2 linked regions of the Homo sapiens genome follow. The protein of the gene in region 1 purifies or fractionates together with the protein of each later gene. This does not show direct contact. Each region holds a gene or a part of one and is shown on either strand. Other genes may lie near its edges. The genes, in order: CYP3A4 and UBE2G1.

Region 1 (3,825 bases):
AAGCTCTTGTCAACCTAACTACAAACAGAGAGAAGTTCTCTGAAAGAAGAAGATATTTATTTGGGTGTAGAGTATTGCAATGGGAATCTGCATGCCTTTATAAACTATGTGCAAATTCAGGGAAGTAAAGCAAGACAAAGAGGCTCCAAGGAAAATATGAGGAGGATTTCTTATCAGTTTTGAAATAATTATCCTTCGCTACAAAGATCAGTAACAAGGGTGACGCCTCACCAAGGTTGGACAGGCAGTTGCTGGGCAGGTGTCCTTGCAGAAATATTTTTTTTAATGTTGGGATGGCCTTTGTGCAAGCTTGTAGTTTTGCGGAGTCTTTTGTGATAGTTTTGTTATCAGGCACACAAGCATGAGAATCCTCTCTTCATAGCCTTCTTTGATTTATTTGTCAGGGTTTTTACACACACACACACACACACACACACACACACACACACACACAACTAGTGACATCATTTTGGTTCTAACAACATTCACACTGGTTATTGTAAAACTTTTCGAAGGTTGTCCTACCAAGGATCCCATGTGTCACCAGGTGTCAAGTTCTACAGTCTGAACTAGGCTGGGAGCATTGTGATTACTTTTCTCCAGACTTTGGTGGCCCAGGGACTCACAGCATCATGCTCTGTCCAGTGTCTGCCTATTCCCCTCTTCTTTTTTTTTTTCCTTAGGTGCCCTTTTATTACATGTGTTGTCTCAGACCCTTCTAATATGTGCTCATAAATACATCATATCATCTCCTTCCCACATCAATTCACTTTCAATTAAAAGCCAAAACTCTTTCATTTAGACTTTGGATTTAAAGTGCTTTTGAATGAAGGGTTGAGAGATAATAGAGAAATAGATTGGCAAACCATTTATACTCTGCTGTTGTTGTTTTTTAATTTTATCTGCAAGTGTGGAACTTTTCATTCTGTTTTGTTATTAAATTTAAGCCAAGACTTTTTAATAGAAGGGTATATAAGCATTTCTTTGTCTATACCTTCCTGCTGAATTTGAAGAAATGCTGAATATTCTTAACCACTGGCGGGCTGATGGACTGTGATTTTATTTTATTTTTTATTTTTAGTTTTTTAAATTATACTTTAAGTTCTGGGTTACATGCATAGAATGTGTAGTTTTGTTACATAGGTATACACGTGCCATGGTGGTTTGCTGCACCCATCAACCTGTCACCTACATTAGGTATTTCTCCTAATGCTATCTCTCCCCTAGCCCCCCACCCAACAACAGGCCCCAGTGTGTGATGTTTCCCTCCCCGTGTCCATGTGTTCTCATTGTTCAACTCCTACTTAGGAGTGAGAACATGTGGTGTTGAGTTTTCTGATCTTGTGATAGTTTGCTGAGAATGATGGTTTCCAGCTTCATCCTTGTCCCTGCAAAGGACATGAACTCATTGTTTTTTTATGGCTGCATAGTATTCCATGGGGTATACGTGGCACATTTTCTTTATCCAGTCTGTCACTGATGGACATTTGGGTTGGTTCCAAGTCTTTGGTATTGTGAATAGTTCTGCAATAAACATATGTGTGCATGTGTCTTTATCATAGAATGATTTATGCTTTGGGTATATGCCCAGTAATGGGATTGCTGGGTCAAATGGTATTTCTAGTTCTAGATCCTTGAGGAATCACCACACTGTCTTCCACAATGGTTGAACTAATTTACACTCCCACCAACAGTGTAAAAGTGTTCCTATTTCTCCACATCCTCTCCAGCATCTGTTGTTTCCTGACTTTTTAATGATCACCATACTACCTGGCATGAGATGGTATCTCATTGTGGTTTTGATTTGCATTTCTCTAATGACCAGTGATGATGAGCATTTTTTCACATGTCTGTTGGCTGCATAGATGTCTTCTTTTGAGAAGTGTCTGTTCATATCCTTTGCCCATTTTTTGATGGGGTTGTTTGCTTTTTTTCTTGTAAATTTGTTTAAGTTCTTTGTAGATTCTGGATGTTAGCCCTTCGTCAGATGGATAGATTGCAAAAATTTTCTCCCATTCTGTAGGTTGCCTGTTTGCTCTGATGATAGTTTCTTTTGCTGTGTAGAAGCTCTTTAGTTTAATCATATCCCATTTGTCAATTTTGGCTTTTGTTGCCATTGCTTTTGGTGTTATATTTATGAAGCCTTTGCCCATGCCTGTGTCCTGAATGGTATTGCCCAGGTTTTCTTCTAGGATTTTTATGGTCCTAGGTCTTACATTTAAGTCTTTAATCCATCTTGAGTTAATTTTTGTATAAGGTGTAAGGAAGGGGTCCAGTTTCAATTTTCTGCATATGGCTAGGCAGTTTCACCAACACCATTTATTAAATAGGAAATCTTTTCCCCATTGCTTTTGTGTGTCAGGTTTGTCAAACATCAGATGGTAGTAGATGCATGGTGTTATTTCTGAGGCCTCTGTTCTGTTCCATTGATCTATATTTCTGTTTTGGTACCTGTACCATGCTGTTTTGGTTACTGTAGCCTTTTAGTATAATTTGAAGTCAGGTAGCGTGATGCCTCCAGTTTTGTTCTTTTTGCTTAGGATTGTCTTGTCTATGTGGGCTCTTTTTTGGTTCCATATGAACTTTAAAGTAGTTTTTTCCAATTCTATGAGGAAAGTCAGTGGTAGCTTGATGGAAATAGCATTGAATCTATAAATTACCTTGGGCAGTATGGCCATTTTCATGATATGGAGTCTTCCTACCCATGAGCATGGAATGTTCTTCCATTTGTTTGTGTCCTCTTTTATTTCATTGAGCAGCGGTTTGTAGTTCTCCTTGAAGAGGAGAACTTCACATCCCTTGTAAGCTGGATTCCTAGATATTTTATTCTCTTTGTAGTAATTGTGAATGGGAGTTCACTCATGATTTGGCTCTCTGTTTGTCTATTATTGGTGTGTAGGAATGCTTGTGATTTTTGTAAATTGATTTTGTATCCTGAGACTTTCCTGAAGTTGCTTATCAGCTTAAGGAGTTTTGGGGCTGAGACGATGGGGTTTCCTAAATATACAATCATGTCATCTGCAAACAGAGACAATTTGACTTCCTCTTTTCCTAATTGAATATCCATTTCTTTCTCTTGCCTGATTGCCCTATTCAGAACTTCCGACACTATGTTGAATAGGAGTGGTGAGAGAGGACATCCTTGTCTTGTGCCGGTTTTCAAAGGGAATGCTTCTAGTTTTTGCCCATTCAGTATGATATTGGCTGTGGGTTTGTCATAAATAGCTCTTACTATTTTGAGATACGTTCCATTGATACCTAGTTTATTCAGAGTTTTTAGCATGAAAGGCTGTTGAATTTTGTCAAAGGCCTTTTCTGCATCTATTGAGGTAATTATGTGGTTTTTGTCATTGGTTCTGTTTATGTGATGGATTACATTTATTGATTTGGTATTTTGAACCCAGCCTTGCATCCCAGGGATGACGCTGACTTGATCCTGGTGGATAAGCTTTTTGATGTTTTGCTGGATTTGATTTGCCAGTATTTTATTGAGGATTTTCGCATCGATATTCTTTAGGGATATTGGACTAAAATTCTCTTTTTTTGTTGTGTCTCTGTCAGGCTTTGGTATCAGGAGATACTGGCCTCATAAAATGAGTTAGGGAGGATTCCCTCCTTTTCTATTGTTCAGAAAAATTTCAGAAGGAATGATAACAGCTCCTCTTTGTATCTCTGGTAGAATTCAGCTGTGAATCCATTTGGTCCTGGACTTTTTTTGGTTGGTAGCCTATTAATAATTGCCTCAATTCAAAACCTATTATTGGTCTATTCAGAGATTCAACTTCTTCCTGGTTTAGTCTTGGGAGGGGGCATGTGTCCAGGAAT
Region 2 (3,825 bases), on another chromosome or scaffold:
GTACAGTGTGGGCATTCCTTTGCTTTAAGCAAGTAAAGTATTAATTAAGCACTCTTTTAATGAGATCAGTTTGATTTAGGATAAATAATTTGGCATTTCTTAATTATTGAAACCTTTTTTTTAGATTTAAATTTTTGTTAGAATTTAGATGACCTCTAAGGGTGTGTCTAATGTTACCTTTCATTGGTTTGTAGGAAATAACTTTTCAGAGAAGGAAGTGTGGGCTTATGGAAACAAATCTGGCAAGGTAAACATAGTGTAGTTTTATATGGTTAATAGCATTTCAGGTACAGAAAAGTACAAATCAGAAAAAGCAAACATTTTCCAAATTTTGGTAATGAATATGAATTATTGGTATAAACAGATAAATGATAAAGAATAAAATGTAGTTTCAGGAAATAAGATATTTAAATGTTACAATAAAACATTCTAAACTTTTTCCCCCTAGTGCAAGATAGTATTGGGCTAATTTGAGTTAATCAGCAGTTTTTTTTTGTTTGTTTTTTTTTTTTTTTTGAGATGGAGCCTTGTTCTGTCGCCCAGGCTGGAGTATAGTGGCGAGATCTTGGCTCACTGCAGCCTCTGCCTCCCGGGTTCAAGTGATTCTCCTGCCTCAGCCTTCTGAGTAGCTGGGACTACAGGCACACGCCACCACCCCTGGATCATTTTTGTATTTTTAGTAGAGATGGAGTTTCACCATGTTGGCCAGGATGGTCTCCTTGGCCTGCCTTGGCCTCCCAAAGTGTTGGGATTACAGGCGTGAGCCATCGCGCCCGGTCTAATCAGAAGTTTTTATCAGTGCTGTTCCATTGATAGATTCTGGCCCTCATAGAAACTTCTGGAAGAAATACTGTACTGTATTGCTGTTGCTGTAGAGATGTATACCTCTTTTTATAAAGTTATGTTCTAGATTTGCAACAAGTTAATTTTTGTAAGCGGAAATATTTTATTTTACCTTTTATTTAACCTTTATACCCATGTCCAGTGACTTAGAAAAACTGCTATTGCTGTATCTTTGCTTTTTTTCCTTTAGCTATTCTTATTTACTCTTCTATTGGCTAGGGATATGTTAAAAATACAAAAAACAAAGACCTTAAATTTTTACCTGGCAGCTGTTTGTTGTTTGTTTGCTTTAATCTTGTAAAACAAGACTGCTTTTAAGTAAGTTTATCAAATAGGAATTTTTAAAAAAGTTCTTTATGTCAGGAGACACTTTTCCTTTTATCAAATAGGAATTTTTAAAAAAGTTCTTTATGTCAGGAGACACTTTTCCTTTGCTTTTGAATGTACATGCATTTTAATTACATTATCATATTCTTATGTAAGGTATATATTTTCTAGGGTTTCTATGTTAAGACAGAGTAATGCTAGGCAAAGAGTTCTTTTTCCTTTTTTTTTTTTAATTTTATTTTTTTGAGATGGAGTTTCGCTCTTGTTGCCCAGGCTTAAGTGCAGTGGCACGATCTCGGCTCACCGCAACTTCTTGCCACCTGGGTTCAAGCGATTCTCCCACTGCAGCCTCCCGAGTAGCTGAGATTACAGGCATGGGCCACCACACCCAGCTAATTTTGTATTTTTAATAGAGACAGGGTTTCTCTATATTAGTCAGGCTGGTCTTGAACTCCTGACCTCAGGTGATCCACCTGCTTCAGCCTCCCAAAGTGCTGGGATTACAGGCGTGAGCCACGCGCCCAGCCAAGTTCTTTTTCAACTTGATGCCAAAAGCATGAGCCATAAAAGGAAATATTAGTAAACTGGACATCATGAAAATTAAGAATTTTTACCTGATTAAAGACTGTTAAGAGGATGCAAAGACAAGCTACAAACTGGAAGAACATTTGCAAATCACATATCTGGCAACTGATTGTATCTAGAATATTTAAAGAACCCTCAACAGTTTAAAAAAAAAAAGTCAATTCAAAAAAATGGGCAAAATTAGACAGGTGTGGTGGCTCTCATCTGTAGTTTCAGCTACTAGGGAGGCTTGAATAGGAGCATCGCTTGAGATGGGGATTTTGAGGCGGCAGTGAGCTGTGACTTCACCACCGCTACACTCCAGCCTGGGCCACAGAGCAAGGCCCTGCCTAAAAAATAAGGGCAAAAGACACCAAGAAACATTTCACTGAAGAGGACATACAAATAGCAAACAAGTGACAACATGTTCAACATTATTAGACATCAGGGAAATGCAAATTGAAATCACCGTAAGATATCACTACTTACCTGTTAGAATAGTTAAAATTAAAAAAACTGTAACACTAAATGCTGCCAGGGACTTGGAGAAACTTGAACTTTTATACATTGCTGGTGGGAATGTATAATTGTATATCCACTATAGATAGAAAACAGCTTGCTTTTTTTTTTCTTTTTTAAGAGACAGGGTCTCTCTCTCTTTGTGTCTACATATATCTTTTAAAAATTTTTTATAAAAATAGAGATGGGGTCTTGCTGTGTTGCCCAGGCTGGTTTTGAACTCCTGGGCTCAAGCAGTCCTCCTGTCTTGGCCTCCCAGAATGTTGGGATTACAGGTGTGAGCCACCACATCCAGTCTATTTTTTTTGTTTTTTTTGAGACAGAGTTCCGCTCTTGTTGCCCAGGCTGGAGTGCAGTGGTGGGATCTTGGCTAGATTGTCCTTCTTTATGGGTGGTCTTGGCACCTTTGTATAAAATTCTTGAAATGACAGAATTACAGTGATGGAGAATAGTGGTGTTCAGGGATTTAGGGACATGAGGGATATGTGGTATACAGTAACATGAGGGATCTTTGTGGTGATGAACAGTCTTGTATCTTGATAGTGATTACACACATCTGCAAATGTGATAAAATTGCATAGAGTTATACACCCACCCCCCCCCCCCACACACACACACACACAACCGAGTGATGACATCTGAATACAGTAGTCCTCCCTTATCTGCATGGGATAAATACTTTCCAAGACCTCCAGGGGATGCCTGAAACCACTGATAGTCCTGAACCTTGTGCTTTCTCCTATATATGCATACCTATGATAGGATTTAATTTATGTTAGTCTAACAACAATAATAACACAGAGCAATGATAACAATATGCCGGCATTACTACTCTTGCACTCTGGGGCCATTATTAAGTAAAATAAGGGTTACTTGAAACCAGGCACTGCTAAGTGATAGGCAGGAGGGACAGTGTGAGATTTCATCATGCTACTTAGAACAACACAAAATTTACAACTTAGGAATTGTTTATTTTTTCTGTTATTTTCCATTTAATATTTTCAGACTGGGCTTGACCACAAGTAATTGAAAATGCCGATGGGGCAGGGGTGGGGGGACTATAAAGTATATGGATTGCACCACTGTCGATTTCTTGGGTTTGATATTGTGCTAGAGTTATACAGGGTGTTAGCATTTGGGAGAAACTGGGTAAAGGTTACAGGAAACCTTTCTGTACAGTTCCCCCTTGTCCTATGGGACTGTATTTCAGAATAAGAAGTTTTTAAAAAAAGTCACCTGTAACCATGCATTATTATCAATCCTTTTTCAAATAAAGAACTTAATATTTGTAGTTATAAATACAACTACATGGTTGCTCTATTAACATGTTCAAGGAACAGGAAGTTGAAATAGAGAAACCTGTAGTTTAAGACAGAAATTCCGTCTTAATTTTATTTTTTTGTTATTATTTTTGAGACAAAGTCTTGCTGTGTTGCTCAGGCTGGTCTTGAACTCCTGGACTCAAGCAATCCTCTTGGCTTGGCCTCCCAGAGTGCTGGGATTACAGGCATGAGCCACCACGCACAGCTACCATCCTAATTTTAAATAGCAGTCTTCATTTAAACTTGTGTG

The links.
Region 2: the proteins of CYP3A4 (region 1) and UBE2G1 purify together in Homo sapiens (affinity purification with mass spectrometry, with the first as the bait; one study listed by BioGRID). This does not show direct contact.

What each region holds. Positions count from the first base shown.
Region 1 is NC_000007.14:99,774,106-99,777,930, reverse strand, and holds part of CYP3A4 (cytochrome P450 3A4), read left to right. Parts: intron 1-3,825.
Region 2 is NC_000017.11:4,356,543-4,360,367, reverse strand, and holds part of UBE2G1 (ubiquitin-conjugating enzyme E2 G1), read left to right. Parts: intron 1-3,825. UniProt on the Homo sapiens protein: Accepts ubiquitin from the E1 complex and catalyzes its covalent attachment to other proteins. In vitro catalyzes 'Lys-48'-, as well as 'Lys-63'-linked polyubiquitination. May be involved in degradation of muscle-specific proteins.